2 separate regions of the Homo sapiens genome follow, and region 2 is linked to region 1. The links come from fine-mapping of genetic effects on gene expression. A gene starts in region 1. The other region holds a variant in brackets. All regions are shown on one strand. Distances are from middle to middle.

The links. PIP is the estimated chance that this variant, and not a neighbour inherited with it, causes the effect. A credible set is the group of variants that fine-mapping cannot tell apart.
Region 2: its variant is the best candidate, but not a certain one, in a credible set for the expression of TMPRSS5 in whole blood (INTERVAL, PIP 0.59).

The regions. Positions count from the first base shown.
Region 1 is chr11:113,703,280-113,708,658 of GRCh38, forward strand. It overlaps TMPRSS5 (transmembrane serine protease 5), which reads right to left and starts at 3,029. Exons shown (of 13, transcript NM_030770.4): 1 at 2,943-3,029. The coding sequence starts at 2,945.
Region 2 is chr11:113,675,220-113,680,598 of GRCh38, forward strand. The region is part of intron 1 of LOC107984390 (a long non-coding RNA gene); the gene reads right to left. Among named protein-coding and RNA genes, the nearest start is that of TMPRSS5, 28 kb to the right of the region's middle. The variant C/A (reference allele first, on the strand shown) is at 2,980.

The DNA of each region.
Region 1 (5,379 bases):
TATTGGATTTCAGACTTGCATGGGGACTGTAACCTCTTTATTTTGACCAATTTCTCCCATTTGGAATAGGTGTATTTACCCAATGCCTGTATCCCATTGTATCTAGGAAGTAACTAACTTGCTTTTGATTTTACAGGCTCATAGGCAGAAGAGACTTGCCTTGTCTCAAATGAGACTTTGGACTTGGACTTTTGGGTTAATGCTGGAACGAGTTAAGACTTTGGGGGACTGTTGGAAAGGCATGATTGTGTTTTGAAATGAGGACATGAGATTTGGAAGGGACCAGGATAGAATGATATGATTTGGCTCTCCCCTCACCCACAATCTCATTTTGAATTGTAATTTTGAATTGTAATTACCACGCACTGGGGGAGGGACCTCATAGTAGGTGATTGGATCATGGGGGCAGTTCCCCTATGCTATTCTCATGATAGTGAGTGAGTTCTCACAAGATCTGATGGTTTTATAAGGGGATTTCCCCCTTTACTCTGCACTTCTTTCTCCTGCCAGCATGTGAAGAAGAGTGTGTTTGCTTCCCCTTCCACCATGATCATAAGTTTCCTGAGGCTTCCCCAGCCATGCAGAACTATGAGTCAATTAAATCTCTTTCCTTTATAAATTACCCAGTCTCAGGCAGTTCTTCATAGCAGTGTGAGAACAGACTAATACACTACCATCATCATTCAAAAGAATAAGGGCTTACTTCTCATTGAGGTGATCACAGAAGGCTTCCTAGAAAAAGCAGCCTCTGAGACAGGCCCACAGGGATGAAGAGGGTTTGAGCTGATATAATGGGCATTGGGCAGTCCAGACAAAGAGGATTGAATCAGCAAAGGCAAAGGGATAAGAAAGCATAGAGCAGAGTATGTCATATGTGTGTCTGCAGCTCATGAGCCATGAAGAGGAGTAATGAAAATAAGATCTTAAAAAAAACACCAGACAGTTCAAAGCTAAGTCTGCAACCTACTATGTGAACTTGGACAACTCAGGCCATCTCTTCAAATTTCAATTTTCTCATTTGTAAAATAAGAGTAATAACTCCTGCTTTCCAAGGAATAATCTCCCTCCTCGAGTATCTTGTCTCTCTCTGTTATTCTCCATGCCATAAAGTCAGAGTAATCTTTCTAAAATGCAAATATGAGCATGTGAGCCCCATCTCTACCCCATGAGTCTTTGTGGCCTTCAGGATCAAACAGGAGCTCCATGGCATCGCTCACAAAGTCCTCCATGATCTCGCCTGGCCTCACCTCTCCATCCTCACTGCCAGCACTTGCTCCCTCCACAGCAAAATTTGGGATCACACTGACATACGTGCCATACTTCAGTGCCTTCAGGCACTCTCACAACAGAGAGACTTTGCATCTGCTCTCCCCTTTCCCATGTAACTGACTCCAACTGACCCTTCGAGACTCAGCACAGACATCACTTCTCCAGGAAGCTTCCTTCTATGCATACAGCACCTGTTGGGCCCTATATTGTGCTCATTTACTTCCTTCTCTCTCCTTTCTCACTGGTTTTTGCATCCCAGGGCTAAGCACAGAGCCTGGCACAAAGTGGGAATTCAGTTAAAGTACATTAAAGGAGGGAAGGAAAGAAGGGAGGGGGGAGGGAGAGACAGAGGGGGAGGTACAAATAAGATAATGTGAATTAAAATGACTTTAAAAATTGTAAAGCCCAATACAAATGTTAAGTATAATAATATTAATAAGAACTACACCTAAGCTGTGGATCCTTCCCCCCAAAATTTATAATCCAGTAGGGTAGATAAGATCTCTCAAAACTGAAGCAACTCCCGTTTCCCCTGCAGACTACTGTCTCCCCTGCATCTTTCCCTGTCAACACATAGGGTTGTACCCAATGAGGATAAAAGCCTGAAATGCTGACTCCAGGACAGTATTGGCTTAAATGTGATTTTCATGTGTCACATGAAATGTTCTTTTCACGCCAAAACCTCCCCAGTCATGCCTTCGTACTCCACTGAACTGTCTTCCTAACCCTCCAGCAGGAGGAAGGAAAGACTTTGTCAGACTCACCTAGGTCAGTCACCTCCAAATTGCCCCGAAAATCATTCCACTGGACCCAGAGCACCCATGCCAGTTCAGCTCACAGACAGCGCAGCAGCCCCAACATCTTGCCTATAGAAAGAGGTACCAGCCCCACCTCCCTATTCCCTACACCAGCCACAGCCCAGGACCTATAGGACTGGACCTCCCAAGAGCTGCAGGCCTTGCTTTTCCAGGAGAAACAGAGGTCATGGTTTGTATCAAACCACACACATTCTTTCTTGTGCCTACAGATGAGACTCACAGGACACAGGCAGTGAGGCTGCAGGACAGCAGGCTTGGGAGAGCCAGTCAAGCACCCATAAGATAGTAGAGAAGCAGCAACAGAAGGTGAGGTTTGGATTTCTTCTCTGGGGTTGTGTGATTGCTCTTGAGCTGATGTCCCTCTGAGTGGAGAGGCAGGCCTGATCTAGAGAGAATTCCAGGGCATGGCCAGTCTTTTCTTCTGCCTCAGTACCAAGGAAGCTTGGCTTTAAACCCAGCCTCTGAATAAACTGGCCTCACCTCATGTACTGCTCCACCTCAAAATTCAACTGCCCAAGCTCATGTGCTAGCCTAGAAAAAAAAATGGCCTTTAAAATTACAGGACTCCTTGCTCCTCTTTTTGAGTGGAAGTTCAACGTAATAACGATTTGTTGAGCACCACATATGTGCAAAGCACTTGATAGATCTAAGAGGGATGAAAGAGGATAATAAAGGGCAGTCCCTGGGGAGGAAACAGGAAATTGGCCACACAGGGCCCCTGCTAGGATCCAGCCCCTGTACCAGAGCTGCCTCAGGAGGCTCTTTCCACCAGCCTAGAATCCCAAGGGCAGAGGAGGGAGAGAGAAAGAAAGAGAGAGAGGCCACAGCAGGGATGGCACAGAGACGTAACCTTACCATAGGGGTCAGTGGCACTGTTGTAAAGCCTCAGGGTCTACTAGGCAATGTTCCGCTCCTGTTCTCAGGCCAGCATTGATTAAAGCTAGCCCAGCAAGCTTGGTTGGAAGATGAGGTCTCCCTGGTTCGCACATGGCCCCTCCCTGTATCCCTACTCCAACACTCACACAGACACGCGCCACAGAGACAATGAACTCTGCTGAGGACCCATGAATAGGCCCCTTGTTGCAGGAAAGGGGGACAAGGGCTGGGCTGGGCTAGGCAACCCCAGCCCCTCCCATCTGCTAACTGGAAACTCAGAAACAGAGGAAAAGGTTATGGGGAGGAGGGGAGGCCAACTACTGTTGCTTAGCAACAAGGTCCCTTGTGCCAAAAAGTGTGCCCCATGCATGCATGCTGGCAGAATTCTCCCTTCCTGCTGACAGAGCTGTATTGGAGAGACCGATATTAGCATTTGTTGAAATGTTTCTGAGCCCTCTGGATTTTATCTCGCCTCCATGTGGGTTGGCTTTTCTAGCAGTCTGGGGCTGTCACCATGTTGGAATTGTTGGGGTGATGATGGAAGATCTTTGTCACCTCTTGCCCGAGGGCCACATCTGTCTCCCCAATGCCAGGGAAGTGGGGCCTCTACCCCTGTCTGCCCTGGGAGCCAGTTGCAGCAGGAGCCCTCAGTGCTATCTTGTTTCAAAGCACAAGGTGACCCAAGTGAGCCCACACGGGGCTAAACACACCTGGGAGCAGGCACATCTCTTTAGACAAGGAGGCAGAATAGGTCCTGGGGAAGGCAAACACAGGTGGGGCTTCCTTTCCTCCAACTGGCTGCTCAAAAACCCCTCAGAAGGGACAGTTAAGAATATAGGCTTTAGAGTCAGGCCTTCATCCAACCTCAGTTCTCCCACTTCCCTTACTCAGCCTCACCTGTAAAATGAGGATAATAGTACATGCCTCATAGGGTTGATGTCAGAATTCATTGAGATATTGCCTATAAAGCCCATAGCCTGGTGTCTAGCACAGACTGTATTCAGCAAACAGTAGCTGCTATTATTATTGTTGTTGTTGTTGTTGTTGTTGTTGCTGAATGTCACCCACACAGGATTTAACTTTTTGCTCCCTATTTTCCTCATACACTGTATTAGTCAATTCTTGCACTGCTATAAATAAATACCTAAGACTGGACAATTTCAAGAGAAAAGAAGTTCTCACTGTTCCACAGGCTGTACAGGAAGCACAGTGACTTCTGCTTCTGGGGAGGCCTCAGGAAGCTTCCAATCATGGTGAAAGAAAAAGGGGGAGCAAGGCCTCTAACATGGCAGGAGCAAGAGCAAGAGAGAGAAGGGGGAGGTGCCACACACTTTTAAACAACCAGATCTCATGAGAACTCTATCACGAGAATAGCACCAAGTGGATGATGAATCATGAAGGTTTCTTGATCATGAAGGATCCACTCCCATGATCAAATCACCTCCCATCAGAGTCCACTTTTAACATTGAGGATTATAATTTGACATGAGATTTGGGTTGGGACACAGATCCAAACCATATCATACACTCAGTGTGTCAATTCTGAACTTACTCTCATCACACCAGAGCACACATAAGACAATGAAGAGATAGAGGTCAGCTGTGAATTATAGAAGAAGGAGAGAAATGGTGGCTGGAACTCAGAAGCCCTTGGCTAGGCTCTGAGGTCTCCTAGGACAATACTCTTCAGACTACAAACCTGAATATCTACCGTGTGTCAGAAACTAGCCTGGGCATGGAGGATGAACAAGTCACAGACTGGGTGCTTACAGACTGGAAAAAGGGATAGAAACAGATGTAAGTAACTGTTATTATGAAAAGTGAAATAACAAAGACATAAACCCAGAGGTATAGGAGAATAGAGGAATAGCTGCCCTGAGGATACAAAGAAGAGGGCTTTGCAATGGAGGAGACATTTGAACTGAGTTTTGAGAAGTGACAAAGCAATCACAAAGAAGGGTAATTAAAATATATTGCACGTAATGTCAATGAAAATGGTAGGAGTAAAATCCTCTGAAAATTTCCTCCCCCCTAAAAGCAATGAGAAAAATGGCAAAAAATGGTGAGAATCAATTTTTTCAGAACTCTGGAAATTAATCAAAAGTTTATAGCAATCTGGGAAGTCTTCGTTCAAGAAAAAAAATGACATAATTATAGAAAGAAGAGTGAGCCTTGTGGCATTTTAACTTGCTCCAATTCCATCCCCCTCACCCCAACTCTGCAGTAGCTTTGAAAACCAACAAACCACAATCATCATGGAAACCAGCAGCCTGGCAGCTACAAGAAGGGGTAGAACAGCCTTGGAGTTCCTTCAAAGCCTCATTCCCAGAGAGTTGTAATTATTTGACCTGTCTAGTGGTTCCCTGGAAGATACCATTTGCAAGACTGTCTTTATTTCACCTGTCTCAAAGCTTGC
Region 2 (5,379 bases), 28 kb before region 1:
GTGGGCTATGACTAAGGGGTGTGAGATTTTCCAGCATGATGCTCACACAAAACCCCGAATGTGAGGTTGGGGGTGAGTACAGCATGCTGGCGCCTGAGCAGAAACCCTCAAGGGACACTTGGAAATCATGACTTAAGAATACTTGGGTGTGCAGTGGCATCAGAGGGGTCAGGGGAAGCATGCTGAACTTCACAGTGGCTCTCCCACGCAGTTGGGCAAATTCTTTGGGCCTCCCTGATTTTCCTTAATAAGCCCTTTCTGTCTTCACTCTCCAAGAACTCATTAAATCCTTTCTTGATGCTATTTTCATTCTGTGGTTCGAATATCAGAGTAAGGAGTGCCATAAAATTGTCCCCAGCAGGAGATTTCTTTCGTGAATCCTGAAATAAATTTTGTCCAGCTTTAAGGAGTGGTGGCCACTCCGAGACTCAGCAAACATGTCAGCTTCGACCCTGACTGTGACTTGATTTTACAGCATGTTGCTCCTGCCAATCAGTGCGTCCCTGATGGACATGTCTTCATTTATTCAGTCAGCTTGGCTTAGTGTTCATTCTTGAGAAAATCCAGCCTGGTCCCTTAGGACCTTCCATTAATAGACTGGCTTTGTTGCAGTCACTACTCCGACCCTGCTGTTTCCTCTCAGTTTAGTTGCTTTGCCAATTCACTTTCACTCCAGCCTTCTCTTACACTTTTCAGCCTCCTGTCACAATGGAGGCTTAAATGGGCAGCTTCTCTCTACTTGGAAGGACGAATGCCAGATAAGGGTGGGTTTGAGAAGGATTCAGGGGCCAGGACCACACCTTACCCAGAGCCTGAGCATTACCCTTGCTGTTCTGGGTCTGCTCCATCCTTTTTGTACCTTGGATCCTGCAATTAAAAGAGAAAGCAGAGACTGCCTAGCTCACAGACCCCGAGGATAATTTACTGACTTCATGGCACCTGAGAGTGTCATGAATGCCTGGCTCAAGCCCAGCTCCAGAGAGTACATTTCAAAAAATGTCAAATAGATGTAAAGTACCCCCTCCCCACTGGTATTGCATATTATATGATTTCACTGAAACCCCATCCTGAACATCGCCATAAGAACATCATCATAGAACCCACATTCTCTGACTAGCACTGGGGGCATGATTAGGGACAATTAAAGCACAAATGCAGTGTTCATTCCCAATTAAAAGAGATTTGACTTCAAAGGTCCAATATGAATTCTTTCCTTAAAGAAGCACACTAGAGCATGGTAATTAGAGATTCGGGTTCTAGTGCCAAACTACTGGATTCAAATCCAAGCTCTGCCACTTGCTAGCTGTGTGACTTGGGCAAGATGTTTAACCTCTTCTGTGCCTCAATTTCCTCATTTGTAAAATAGAAATAATAATAGCAATCAACTTGTAGGGATGCTGTGAAGAATAAAAGTGTCAGTACATATAAAGCGCATAAAACAGCACCCAGCAGATAGCAAGTGCTCAGTAAAAGGAGCACTCGCCAGTCTCCTCTTGATGGACTTTTATACTGCATGGAGCTCCCTGGGAGTACACAGACAGAAGTTTCCAGATGGATGTGGGGTCTTTCAAAATCCTGACATCAGCAACATTTTATGTGAGTTCCCCAATGTCCACAGTCATGGTTCAGACAATGACCAAGATTATGCACATTTCACACACTGTCTATAAGAAAGATGAGCCCAGTGTAGTCATCCCCCACCCCGCTTTCCAATATTTTTGAGAGAAGTTCCTCAACTGCCACAGTAAAGAAGTCTTTATCAATGCAACCCCAACAGTCCAGCGTCAGCCATGGTGAAGGCCAATTGTGGTCTCCCAGTGAATGACGGACACAAATAAGTCAGAAAATACCCTTCACTCTCAAGGTAGGAATAATTTCATATATCTTCAGTTCTCATATATGGCTAGGGGGGTTCTCAAACATTTTATTTAAATCTCATTTAAAATTTATTTTAACCATCTAAACAAACCATAATGACAATGTGGTATATACCCAATTTTGATACATAGAGGCCACCAGCCCATTAGCTTAGGATGCCAGATTAACTTATTTTTATGCAGGCCTCTGAATGAAGTTTTCTCGTTTTAATTAAAAATTACCCCGAGACTAAAAGTCAAGCTGTGAAAAGGCTATTGCTGTTTGCAACTACTCAACTGTATAAATCGGGATTTCTTGGTGCTATGCAACCCAAACCAAAATCTAGAGAGAAACTGGTTGCCAAGACTGATACAACTCTGTAATTTGATGCATAGGCCCTGATTTCAATTTCCTGTGCTCATCAAAACAACATCATTCACATCGATACAGAGTAGGTATCACCAATTACAAAATATATGCATGCTCATAAAATACTGCTCTCATCTCTTATGTGTTTAAGGGTTCCAAATAAATATTTTATTATTGAAAGAAGTCTGAAATCCCACTATAATTGTTATAATGTATGCCAGTGTCCCTCAAAACCCTCCTCCACGCCTCTCCCAGAGCAATGCAATCTCTCCATTATACGCCTATGATTGTGACTCTCTCCTACTTGAAAACTTTCAGCAGCTCCTCCCATTCCCCATAAGACAAAGTGAGGACTCCTCGGCTTGGCAGACAAGGGCATAGCAATCTCATTCCCACACACTGTTCACTGGCATCTCTTGTTCCCTGGCATCAGTCCCTGCTCCAGCTGCACAGAACTACTTGGTATTTCCTAGGAAATGTCAGGTATTTTCATGCTATTCCCTTGGTCCCAAATGCCCTTATCTCTCTCCCGCTCCCAGCCACCTCCCCTCACTCCAACTCAGTTCTGAAATTCATCCGTCAGGACCCAACTCAAGCAGCATCTCCTTAAGCAGCCCATGGCTCATTGGTGCCCCTGTAGTGCCTTACGCCTGGCTCTATAGTGAAATCATCAGCGTGCATCTCCACGTTCCCCACCTGATTGAGAGCTTCTGCTGATGTAGTGATGTATTTGTCTTTATATTCTGGCACACA[C/A]AGGTGTTTAATAACGTAGAAGGAAGAGAGGGAGGAGAAAGAGGGAAGAGGGAAGAGGACAGAAGGGGAGGAAGTGACAGCCAAGCCTCTCATGCCATGCCTGCCCACCTCCCAGGATCACAGAAATAGCCCTTCCAGATTAAGCTGTGTTCCTGGACTACCTGCATGACTACTCTTTTCCATGCTCTTTCAAGATAATAATACCTTTGATTCCATTTCAGCGTGGTGACACTGAATAACGTTTGTGAAGCAGCGTTACTCCTATTATACAGATGAGGTAACTGAGACCAGAGACATAAGGTGATGGGCCAGAATTCTGCCAAGGGCCTGGTCTAATTCCTCTAAGGGCCCAGTTTACCATCACTGTGTGTTCAGTTCATATGTATGTGTGTGTAAGTCTGCACACTTTGGTGGGGCACTGTGGTGGGAGGAACATGGCTTAGTCTTTTCTATTAAAGAGATGATTGAGCCAAAGCTACCATTTCGTGAATTAGAAGCAGCATTTTGCCTTGGGCTTTTTATTCTGTGCAAATAGGTTGGTATGGAAACCATGCTTCTGAGGTTGCAATCAAAACACCATTTGCCTCTATTGGTGTTCTTAAAATGCTACATGCTGATAGTAGATGAGAAATTTTTACATTTACCACATCAATTCTTTCTTGTCAACAAGCATCTATCTATAAATGGTTGTAAAGTAATTGTAGCAAACTCTTTCAAAATATTCCATATTTGTGCTCTAACAGCAAACAATAAATATAGCTACTTTGACTAGATGGTAAGCTCCGTGAAGGTAGTGATATTTCATTCATCTCTGGGTGCTCAAGGATTAGATAGGGAATGGCACCAAGGAGACATTCAGTAAATGGGGTTTGATTGGATAAACAAGACAACTGGCAGATTTGCCAACACAGGTTAACCACAACCTTTTACACTGTCCTAGCCCTACACAACCTTCAAAGCCTTCTTGCTACTTTACTTGGTCTTCCCACCTTTTCCGCAAGTTAAACAGGCGACATATTATTAGTTCCATTATGCAAAGGAGAAAATAGAAACTCAGCAAAGTCCAGTGACTTAGCTGGGCTGGTCAACAAGCACCGGAATCCAGGTTAGAACCCAGACTTGCCAGCTCCTGGGGAAACACCCTCCCCTCCTCCTCACGCAGCCCCCCCGCCCTGCCCCACTCCACCGAATGCCTCCACACACTGAACAGCCAGTACCTGCTCAACAGGCTCCAGAACACCCACAACTGACTCCCATACCTTCTCCGCTGTTTCATGAGCACCTCTATGTGATTTAGTTTAATGCAGACCTCTCCAAAATGCATCTGGACTCACAGCCCAGCTCCTCTTCCACAGCTTTTCCTTGACCCTGCACATCCCTTTTTTCCTAATTAGCTTTGGCTTACCTTAGTTTTCACTGAAGTCTGCCCTGCGAGAGTTCTGGAGTACGGTGTATTTGTACACTAGAGTTTTTTTTGGTGTTTATCGACATTAATTTCTAGGAGGCTATGTGAGTGGGGATGATAATGAATCACTCTGGGTACTTTTCCGCAGAGAATGAGCCCAGGGACCACCATGGTGGCTGGGCTGATGCGGACGTGGAGCTCCCTGAAATGTAATCAGGGGATGCTTTACAGTGCTTTAGGGAAGTAGGGACTCACAGGAGAGAGGTCTGTTTCTGTCATCTTGCCTTTTTGTCTCACTCCAACGGTTAGGAGTAACCATCAATACCCATGGAGACCAGATGGGAGAAGCCCTTCCTGCTCCGGGCTGCTCACTTTAGAGGGCCCGCCCCCCGCAGGGCCAAGACCAGAGTGAGGCAGGAGCCAGCCTGCCTTTGTATGACCCTGAGAGTGATGCCTCCTTCAATTTTGCACTGAGGCACGTCACCTGCCTCACCCTAGTCCCAGCCCTGCTGTCCTGGCCCTTCTTTGACCAGACCCACCGTAAGGGGAGAATTTGCAATGTTGACGTCCTGTGCCTACCCAGACCTGCGTCTCTCTCTCTCTAGATCCTGAAATTCCCAAGGTCCCTGAGCCCGCTTCCAGAGGCTGCACAGGTACCCCTGCTGGGCATACCCCTAAGCAGGATGGAGTGTCTGCACGGCTGTGCAGACAGCCCTTAGCTGAGGGCGTGGGGAGAAAAGGTGGCCAGAAGCCTACTCTCTTCATCAACCAAGCTCCAGGACAGAATCCAAAAATTCAAGGATTCAAAATTTGGATCTGACCTTCCATATTTTTATATGGTCTATTTTTTATGGTAGGAAGATAGAACGTTTTTAGTTTAACAGTGTGTTAGGGTGATGTATTACTCTGAACTATTTAGACATGTGGTATACGGGCCTCTATCCACACTCTTGTCTGGACCCCATAAATGTGAGCCTGGAGGAGTCTTGAGAGAG